Homo sapiens: one gene and its partners. The gene in region 3 interacts genetically with the main gene of each other region. Each region holds a gene or a part of one and is shown on either strand. Other genes may lie near its edges.

What was found.
Region 1: changes in TUBGCP3 (region 3) and LIAS together harm fitness less than expected from each alone (positive genetic interaction), as found in Homo sapiens cells (one large-scale study listed by BioGRID).
Region 2: changes in TUBGCP3 (region 3) and XRN2 together harm fitness more than expected from each alone (negative genetic interaction), as found in Homo sapiens cells (one large-scale study listed by BioGRID).

What each region holds. Positions count from the first base shown.
Region 1 is NC_000004.12:39,465,475-39,469,129, forward strand, and holds part of LIAS (lipoyl synthase, mitochondrial isoform 1 precursor), read left to right. Parts: intron 1-2,043; coding exon 2,044-2,172; intron 2,173-3,655. UniProt on the Homo sapiens protein: Catalyzes the radical-mediated insertion of two sulfur atoms into the C-6 and C-8 positions of the octanoyl moiety bound to the lipoyl domains of lipoate-dependent enzymes, thereby converting the octanoylated domains into lipoylated derivatives.
Region 2 is NC_000020.11:21,341,300-21,344,954, forward strand, and holds part of XRN2 (5'-3' exoribonuclease 2), read left to right. Parts: intron 1-2,790; coding exon 2,791-2,909; intron 2,910-3,655. UniProt on the Homo sapiens protein: Possesses 5'->3' exoribonuclease activity. May promote the termination of transcription by RNA polymerase II.
Region 3 is NC_000013.11:112,550,076-112,553,730, reverse strand, and holds part of TUBGCP3 (gamma-tubulin complex component 3), read left to right. Parts: intron 1-3,655. UniProt on the Homo sapiens protein: Component of the gamma-tubulin ring complex (gTuRC) which mediates microtubule nucleation.

The DNA of each region.
Region 1 (3,655 bases), on a different chromosome or scaffold from region 3:
ATTATGTACACATTTCTTTGGAAAAAGCATATTTGTATGTACAGATACATATTTGCAGAGAATTTTAGGGGCTCAGTGACATGAACTTACCCATAGACCTTTAGCCCATAGAATCCCTCCCTCATATTAGAGCATTAGTCTAAACTTTGAATAATTTTCTTTAAAAAGTATAAACCTGGTCTTCTTAGTAATGATTTTTTTTTTTTTTTGAGATGGAGTCTCGCTCTTTTGCCCAGGCTAGAGTGCATGGCACCATCTCACTGCAACCTCTGCCTCCCAGTTCAAGCATTTATCCTGCCTCAGCCTCCCGAGTAGCTGGGATTAGAGGCCCACGCCACCAAGCTCAGCTAATTTTTGTACTTTTAGTAGAGATAGGGTTTGACCATGTTGGCCAGGATGGTCTCAAACTCCTGACCTCAATTGATCCACCCACCTGAGCCTACCAAAGTGCGGGATTACAGGCCTGAGCCATCACGCCCGGCCTGTTTTTTTGGGTTTGTTTTGTTTTTTCTTTTAAGAGACAGTCTTGCTTTGTCATCTAGGCTGGAGTGCAGCGGCCTGATGATCATAGCTCACTGCAGCCTCAAACTTCTGGGCTCAAGCAATCCTTCTGCCTCAGCCTCCCAAGTAGCTGGGACTACAGGTACACTACCACGCTTGGCTAATGTTTTTACATTTTTTTTTAGAGACGGAATCTTGCTATGTTCCCCAGGCTGGTCTCAAACTCCTGACCTCAACCAATACTCCTGCCTCGCCCTCCCAAAGTGCTGAGATTATTCTAATTTTCTACAGCTCAGTACTAGTTTGGCACCTAAGCGCACTTAGTAAATTTTTTAAATGATTCCCTAGTATTTTCTATTTTCTATTTACTATAGTTCATTTTTGAAAAATCTGTTTGCAATCCACTAGGTTTATTTTACAAGCTTCAGTGGGTCTCAGCTTTCAGTTTAAAAAAGCAATAGAACCAAGCACAGTGGTTCACGCCTGTAGTTCTAGCACTTTGGGAGGCCAAAGCAGGAAGATTGCTTGAGGACAGGCGTTCAAGACCAGCCTGGGCAACATAGGGAGATGCTGTCTCTACAAAAAATAAATTAAAAAAAAAAAATAGCTGGATGTGGTAGCATGTGCCCATAGTCCTACCTGCTTGGGAGGCTGAGGCAGAAGGATTGCGTGAGCCCAGGAGTTTAAAGTTACAGTGAGCTATGATGCACTGGGCAACAGAGCAAGACCCTGTTTTTATTTAAAAAAAAAAAATTATAGGATATGTTCTTTGAATATCTCTTATATTCATGATAAGGGTGTACATGTGGTCTTTTCTACATCTGTTCTTTCAGGGAACAACTCCAGACACTTTGCCAGTGGGTTTGTGAAAAAATGTGTCAGCTGTTTCAGTCGTTTTTGCTGGTGTCAAAGGGAACAGCTCTGTGACCCAGTTCACATTATAATACTTGGATGAATAGATATAGCCACAATATAAATAGGAAGATTAATGTTTAGCTCGTACTTCGTTTAACAAAGCTCATGACTCAGCAACCCAGAAAATAGTTTTTAAAACCCGTAGCACTTGTGAAATATTTGCCTAGAGGAAGGGAGGAGAGCATGATTTGATGACTTTTTAAAGAAATCAAAATTAAAGCAATCAAATAATACTCACATTTATATAAGAAATACTTCAATTTACTTTCCAATGAGTAAAGTTTTATATTTAATGTTTTAATATTTCATATTTTAGTTTCTTGCAATTATTTACTTTTTCTAAAACCTACTTAAATTAGGTTTAAAAGTCTACTATATATAATTTGAAATTTTATTCAGTTTGCCTACAGGTGTGTTTTAACCACTGTGTACATAGTATTTAACGGTCTGCTTTTTTTTTTTTAATAATGGTTCATGTATGAACATCTGTATGTTCATACTTTTCTTGACAAAGTTCTAAAGGTTACTGTGTTGAAGCATACTGAACGATTACTGATAATTTCTATTTTGAGGAACAGGTATGTCAGTTCTTTCTCTCTGTTTGATAATTCTCTCTTTTCCCCTTAGGAATCCAAAAATCCTTGTGGAGTGTCTTACTCCTGATTTTCGAGGTGATCTCAAAGCAATAGAAAAAGTTGCTCTGTCAGGATTAGATGTGTATGCACATAATGTAGAAACAGTCCCGGAATTACAGAGGTGAATACGTGTACAAAGTAATGTTGGGAAGTTAGGCGGGTCAAAATATGCCATATATTCTTGCCTTTTCCAGGGCTGAACTTTGCCATTGACTTTTACAAAGTAAACTCTATTCTTTTTTGTTTTTTAGGCAAACTCAATCTATGTCTCTTACATAAAAATCAGAAAATATCACCAACAAAATCAGCATAAATATCACCCATAATAGTATTTCCACCCAGCAATATCAGTTACTAACACCTTAGTGTTTATATTATAAACACTATATTTATACTACATATTTGTATTTTTATATTTATAATATACTTAATTTTTATATTACAAACATTAAGATGTTAGTAACTCATATTACTAAGTTACTGTGTGTGTTTTAATACCCACAAATAATTAACATCTTTTTTCTTTTGTTTTAAAATAATATCATACTGCAAATTTCAATAAGTTGTTTGTTTCCCCCTCCCCACAAATAAAGTTTTCAAAGGAGGGAAAAAATTACACTAGAGCAATTGCTTTGGTTGTAATTCTAAAGAAAAGACTTCAAAAATATATTTGGCTGGATGCTGTGGCTCACGCCTGTAATCTCAGCACTTTGGGAGGCAGAGGCAGGCAGATTACCTGAGGTTGGGAGTTCGAGACCAGCCTGACCAACATGGAGAAACCCCGTCTCTACTAAAAATACAAGATAGCCAGGCGTGGTGGCACATGCCTGTAATCCCAGCTACTCGGTAGGCTGAAGCAGGAGAAGAATCACTTGAACTCGGGAGGCGGAGGTTGCAGTGAGGTGAGATTGCGCCATTGCACTCCAGCTTGGGCAAAAAGAGCGAAACTCCATCTAGAAAGAGAAAGGAAAAAAAAAATATATATATATATATATATTTTTTTATATTATATATATTCATATATATTTATATATATATATTCAGCACTAATATGTGTAATAAATGATGCAGAAGAAAAACTCGTGGCTCACGCCTATAATCCTAGCACTTTGGGAGGCCGAGGCGGGCGGATTACCTGAGGTTGGGAGTTCAAGACCAGTCTGGCCAACATGATGAAACCCCATCTCTACTAAATATACAAAAAATTTTAGCTAGGTGCAGACCTGTAATTCCAGCTACTCTGGAGGCTGAGGCAGGAGAATTGCTTGAACCCGGGAGGCGAAGGTTGCGGTGAGCCGAGATAGTGCCATGGTACTCCATCCTGGGCGACAGCAAAACTTTGTCTCAAAAAAAAAAAAAAAGAAAAAAACTCATATCATTCAGATGTACTTTTTAAAAAAAGTAGACACTATGCTTTCTTATTCCTAATAATTTCAGTAATTAAGACTAATCATTGGCAAGTAACACTGATGTAAGAAAAAAAGTAAGGATTGTTATCCACATCCATTCAAATTTTAGAAAAATGAACATTTTAAGCTTCGGGCAAGAGTAATATCATTTTTTTCTTTAATTTTAGCATTTAGCAGTGATTTTATTAGCTTCTA
Region 2 (3,655 bases), on a different chromosome or scaffold from region 3:
CCTTCAGTGGGCAGTTGTGAGCATTTTGCAAAATAGTATTCCTTAGGTGTAAACTCTGGCTCTCCAATTCAGCATGGAATAGATCTAAATAAATATCTTAAGGTAGCACTTACTGGTTACTCCCTGTTTGTGAACTCAGCAACTGCATGCATTTATTTGCCTTGTGGTATTCTTCCATATTTGAACTTGGTAATCCAAACTCCAGAAGCAAATCAACCTATCCTGCAAGGCTGTACTTTGTCCACCACCTTCCTATTGTAGTGGAAATAGACCATGAGCTCTCAGAATACCCAGTGGGACAGCAACAGGGCTGAGGGAACAGACCCTGATCTAACAGTAGAGGAAGGAACATACACTTTTGCTATGATATATCCAAGGAAATTGAATAAGCTTGGATATTTAATTTCTGTTATTCTGTTAGTTATCCTATTGATGCTCATATGGAACAGAAATAGCTGATGCCCATCATTCAAGATTTTAGTGACTACCATCCCCGCAGAGCAGAACTGAGAGTGACTGGTGGTGTTATATGCCCTGTTGATGGTAGAGTACTTTTTTTTTTAAATCTTGGGAGGCAGGCAGGTTTAAACTTTGCCAGCTGTGGTTGCTTCAGGAAGCATTCCAGTATTATCTTCAGGCCCGGTAGTATTAGGCCACAGGACCAGACTGTAGATCGATAACATCTGCCATAGGAGTAGTAATGGGGAGACTGGTGATGAGGTTGCTTCTTTGATTCTGTCTTAATTAACTTCCCTTGCCACAATTATTTCTATATAGAGGAGGTATGGAATTCGAATCTTTGCAGAGTGGGATTTTCACCTAGAATGTTCTAAATTTAAGGAAATTTTGAAGTCAAATTACCAGTTTATTTAAAGGGAGCCATTAAAGTTACAGATTTCTCGTGTTTTATTTTTCTGAGCTGTTGGGTTGTAGTCTCTAATACTTATCTACTGATGATTAACATTCTTAGTGTTTTATTAAATAGCTTCCATTTCCTTATATTTGTGGTTTTATATTTAGCGTTCTTCAGTGTGGTTTCATTATATCTAATTTGATGAAAAAAACAGCTTAAGAAGAAATTTGAATTTAATATGAATCTGGTATGTTCACAAGGGAATATTTTTGTTGGTAGAGACAGCAGCGGAGATTTAGCATTAAATGGTGAACAGCATTTTTTTCTAGAAAGTATATTATTATTTGTTTTCTAAAGATAGAGTTTATATCTTGTTAGTAATTAATTTTGTTAAAGTTTGCTTTTTACACAACTTCTCTGTAGACAGTTAATGGGAATGTCACTCTCATAATTTAATACAAATGGATTAGTGTAGGGTTGAAAAAACAATAGTGATTACTTACTGAATGGTTAACTACCATGTACCATGTAGGCAGCATGCCAGTAATCTTTCACATGTATTGATGCATTTAATCCTTGCAATAACTTGTAAGGAAACAGAACGTTATCATCCCCATTTTAAGATGAGGCTCACAGAGGTTAAGTAATAAATTGTTCAAGGCCACACAGCCAGTAAAGGTTGAATTTGGTATTTCAGACTCAGATCTGTATGACTAAAATACAACAATACCTGCCTCGTTTTCCAAGTACAACAGTGCCTTCCTGTATTTATTTTTATTGGGTTTTTTTTTGACAATATTGTCTGTACCTTTTCATTAATAACATTGACATTATGTTTTTAAAAGAGATGTGCTCTAAGTTCTATGTGAAATATGATTTCGTATTATTTTAACTTTTCTTGACCTGTGGTATGAACTGTGTTTATGCTGTGGATACTCTAATTATTATATCATTCAAATGGCCTTCTGTGCTCTCAGTTTAAAAAAAATTCAGTTTACTTGAAATAGCTAATATACTGTGAGTAACAGAAGAAAAACTTGACTGTGGAAATGTTTCTGCCCCTTATGTTTTTGGTGATGTGGTCCTTTAGCTTGAGTAACTAAAGTTGCAGAACATTTTCTTTTAATTTTTAAATATTAAAATATGTTAGGGTTATATTAAAATATGTTAATTAAAATTAACGTATTATGTTAATTGAGTTAGGTACAAAGGGAAGATAATACTGAATTTAAAGTGACAGCTAAGTCTTTGAAATACCAATAAAATCTGCATTTTTCTAAGATGACTAATAGATTTTTATTTGTTGATTGATTTTTAAAACTGAACATATAAAGTAATTTAAGTTATCTAACACAGTCTTATTAAACTTGCTTTTCAGAGTGGTTGTACTAGGTTGAAGACTTAACCATTTAGCTGCATTCTCACCAGCATTGACTATTTTATATATTATTACATCTATATTATTATATATTATATGCTATATATGTAATGCATTTTATATATCACATAATTTTTTCCCCTCATAGCTTTGCCATTTGGTAGGTGGCAAATGATTGTGAATTCCTAACAGGAATTGTTACAACTGATTGTCACAAATGATTGTGAACCACCAAAGGAAAATAAAATTCAAGTACTATAATTTTTAAAAATCTATAAAATTAAAACTTTTTTTTTCTTCAGAAACTTTTTTTTTTGCCCTAATAATGTTAATTGTTTTTAGTTTAAGCATAGAAAGTTTGGGTATTACATTACTTCTTTTGAGGGGAAGTGAAATGGAGCAAGATCAGTCTCTGTACCTTCTAAATATGTTTACCATCTCTATGTAGTAGCTTTAAAAATGTTACTGTGAAACATGGTAAGTAGTGGTGGTTGGATGTACCTTCTTATGTAAAATGAATAATGAAATCCTTCTTCTGTAATGTCATCATTGTCTGCAGAGTCCTTCGATATCTCCTAATACGAGTTTCACATCTGATGGCTCCCCGTCTCCATTAGGAGGAATTAAGCGAAAAGCAGAAGACAGTGACAGTGAACCTGAGCCAGAGGATAATGTCAGGTGAAGCCATTTTTTGGTAGCACTTTGTTAGCAAATTGCTGAAATAGATGCAGTCTAATTAATGCTATTTAGCTTAGAGCAGCAGTGCCTTCAGATGCTTGCCTGTGATCTTTTTATCCATCAGTAATTAATGTGGAGGGTTAGAATAGTCAGTAAATTCCAGTGAGATGTGTAAGCTGTAGCTGTTAAACCTAAGTGTCTAGATTAGTATGCGTGCAGGCTTTCGTCCTCCAATCCACTTTTCCCTCTGAGACCAGGCACAAGATCGGCTAGATATCATATCTAGGTGTTTAGCTCTGACTATGTGATCTGAATGTTGCTGTTTGGAGACTGATTAAATTTTCAAGCTGCTTAACCTAGAAAGTTCAGTTATACTTAGACACTTAATATAGTTTGCCTTAATCTTCTCTATTGAAAGAGTTCTTCCTCAAAATGAAATATGCAGAAATCATTCTGTTAAGAGATCAATATGTATGTTTTTTAAAAACCACAGACTTGCATATGCGCAATTATATTTCATGACAGAGGAGTTTCCCTTTAACTGTATACTTCAAATTTAAAATAGGAAGCTGATTCTTTAATTCATCCTGAAGTTTGAGATCATTATATAATAAGATTAACAACCTCTCATGTAATTAAATCCAGATTTGAACCGTGGGCTCCAAGTGCAAAAGGCCAACAATCTCAATAATTGTAGCTCATTAAGAATTTAGGAAAACGATCTATTTCAAAGGTAAACAAGACAG
Region 3 (3,655 bases):
AGGTTGAGGAGGGGCCCTGCTGGGACGGGGCCTGCCAACAGGGGACACTCCCAGCTGCGTGATTCCCCAGGCAGCACGGTGAGGCAGGATTTGGGAACACTGCCGAAGCTGGAGATGGGAATCCTGGCTATGGCTGTCTGGACAGCCCTGGGTGGGCACTGCCGATGGCACAGTGCATGGTTGGGAGGGAGCTGCTGCTGCTTCTCCTCCTGTTGGAGCCTGACAGGGGGCAGCTAATAGGAGCCGTGGCATCTCCACTGTCCAGCCCTTCTTTGTGGCTAAGCAGCATGTGGTCTTGTCCATAGGTTGATTATTGGGCAGTAATTACTGCCAATGAAATCTCCAAAAATTATTGAATCACAGAACAACTGTGTACTATAAGCTCAGCGTAGCACAGGACTTATGGCAGCGTAGCTGGTGGGTAGGAGGGTGGCTGGTGAGTAGGAGCGTGACTGATGGAGAAGAGCATGGCTGGTGGGGAGGAGTGTGGTGCTGTAGTGTGGCTGGTGGGCAGGAACGTGGCCGGTGGGTAAGAATGTGGCTGGTGAGTAGGCACTTGGTGTGGCAGTGTGGCTAGTGGGTAAGAACATGGCTGGTGATTAGGCATGTGGTGTGGCAGTGTGGCTGGTGGGGAGGAGCATGGCTGGTGGGTAAGAACGTGGCTGGGAGTAGGAGCATGGCCGGTGGTTGGGAATGTGGCTAGTGAGGAGGAGTGTGGGTGGTGGGTAAGAATGTGTGGCTGGTGAGTAGGCGAGTAGTGTGGCAGTGTGGCTGGTGAGTAGGAGCATGGCTGGTGGGGAGGAGTGTGCTGTGGCAGCGTGGCTGCTGAGTAGGAGCATGGCTGATGGGGAAGAGCGTGGCTGGTGGGGAGGAGCGTGGCTGGTGGGGAGGAGTGTGCTGTGGCAGTGTGGCTGCTGAGTAGGAGCATGGCTGATGGGGAAGAGCGTGGCTGGTGGGGAGGAGCGTGGCTGGTGGGGAGGAGTGTGCTGTGGCAGCGTGGCTGCTGAGTAGGCATCACACTTTGAGCTTTGAAGCGAGGCAGCCCAGGGTTCTGGTTTGGGCTTCTCCTGTAATGGTCACGTCATCTTGCCCAGGTTATCTTCTGTTGGCCACAAGTTTCTTCCTGCATAGAGTGGGGTAGTGATTACCTCTAGGATTGTGAAGGTGGGGAGAGAATGCGTATAAAGATGCTGCTTCCCAGTCTAGTACTGTTTTCTGTTCTGTTTGCCAGTCTAGTGAATTGCTCGATGACCAGCCACCACTCTCCCTCATTGCAAGGGCAGATAGGAGTGAGCTGGCTCTTTCTCGAGGCAGGTAGGACTGGTGGGCCGTCCCCTCAGGAGCCAGCTGTAATTTTAGAGTCCCTGTCCCTTTTCCCGAAGGGAGTGTTTTATCATGTCTGGGTTTATATCATCATCTTATGCAAGTGTCACTGATAGGTCCCAGTCAACTTGATAGACATGAAGCAAAACACACACACAAAATCAATACAGGATAACTAAACCATTATGTAGATATTTTATTCCAGGAGATGGATTGATCATCACTATAGTAGTATCATATTATGTTTTATAGCAGGGGTCCCCAGTTCCTGGACTGTGGACCGGTACTGGTTCATGGCCTGTTAGGAACTGGGCCGCACGGCAGGAGGTGAGTGGAGGGCGAGCAGGCATGACCGCCTGAGCTCTGCCTCCTGTCAGATCAGTGATGGCATTAGTTTCATAGGAGTGTGATCCCTGTTGTGAACCGTGCATTCAAGGGATCTAGGTTGCATGCTTCGTATGAGAATCTAATGTCTGATTATCTGAGGTGGGAACAGTTTTATCCCAAAACCACTCTGCCCCCCCATCCCACCCTGGTCCGTGGAAAAAATGTCTTCCACAAAACCAGTCCCTGGTGCCAAAAAGGTCGGGGACTGCTGTTTATAGTACTGGACTTTAGAGGCTCTTCTTTTATCTTCTTTCTCCTTATCGATTATCATAGCAGCCTTCTAAAATGATCAGGGCAAGCATTAATTGTCCCCATTTTGCAGATGTGAGAATTGAACCTCAGCAAGTTTGATTGATTTGACCAAGTTGCCCTGACTAGTAGATGGCAGGTATGGACTAGGGTGTGACGTGTCACTCTGTTCCAAAGCTGTCTCTGTTCTTCCATTTCCTGCTGTTTGGAGTCATTGCTTGGTGCCATCCAGTTGCTGAAGGAGTGATGGTTTATTTATCTTATTTGAAGAGCCAGCGTGTGCTCTCAGTGGGGTGACCGTGTGCCCTAATTTATGCCTTGCATAATTTATGTCCTGTGTCAGTATTACCAGTGCCCACAATTAGCCTTGGAGGTGTCCTGGCTCTAGACATACCAAATGGAGCAAAATCATATATGAATGAAGATACTGTTTTGTAAGTGTGAAACTTACATGTGCATTTAATGAACCAAGGTGGAAACAGCCTCTGCTAACCACAGGCCTTTTCCCTCTGAGTGTGTGTGGCGCTGCCGCGCTCTGCCTGCACTTCCACTCTTTTGGTTGTAGACTTCTCAGAAGCTGACTCACATACACCTGTATATAAATACTTAGATTCTACACGTTGGATAATGATTTGATTATTTCAGCAGGTTTTGTTTTTGTTTTTTTTTTGAGACGGAGTCGTCTCGCTCTGTCACCCAGGCTGGAGTGCAGTGGCGCGATCTCGGCTCACTGCAAGCTCCGCCTCCCATGTTCACGCCATTCTCCTTCCTCAGCCTCCCGAGTAGCCGGAACCACAGGCACCCACCACCACGCCCGGCTAATTTTTTTGTATTTTTAATAGAGACGGGGTTTCACTGTGTTAGCCAGGATGGTCTTAATCTCCTGACCTCATGATCTGCCCGCCTTGGCCTCCCAAAGTGATGAGATTACAGGCGTGAGCCACCGCACCTGGCCGCATATTTCAGCAGGTTTTTCAAAGCTTTGATGTGTTTATGTGTCTGCTCTCCTGCCCTGGGGCTGGGATGGAGTTTTGGTAAAGAGTGATGCTGTGCCTGAGCAGATTCCATGTCGTTTTCTCTGTAAATATTACCTAAGAAAACTGACCTATGGTTTAGTAAGCACCTTTGTGCCCACACTGTGCCAGGCGCTTGCCCTACGTTACCGCATTTATTCTTCCTCCCTTTGTAGATGAGCCTAGAGGTTCATACCGTCAGGGGCTGACACGTGGCGGTACCTCCAGCGGGAGCCCTGGATTTTTACCCCCTGGTCTGTCTCATTCCAGACTCTAGGACGTTTCTTCTTGCACACCTCACTTTTGACGTGTCCTTTTGTGTCTACAAAATTAGTATGTTTTATGTTCATTTTCATACTTGAAAATGTTCACATTTGTCTTAGTCCACAAACCATAAATGCAGTAAAATACACCTATAGGTGACTGCTGATATATTTTAAAAATATACAGAAAGGTATGCAACCTACATATTTACTTAAAGAAAACAAGTTTAAAAAACAATTAAAAAAAATTTTTTGATGGAGTTTTGCTGGATAAAACTGAATGAGAAAGAACACAGGTTTATCCCTTGCAGGCTGCTTCTGCTGTGGGCTCCTTGAACAGCAGAGCTGCCCCCAGGCATCCTGGAGTTACATCCCACAGCTCATCCCTGAAGGCTCTTGCCACAGGACTGGATGCAGGTG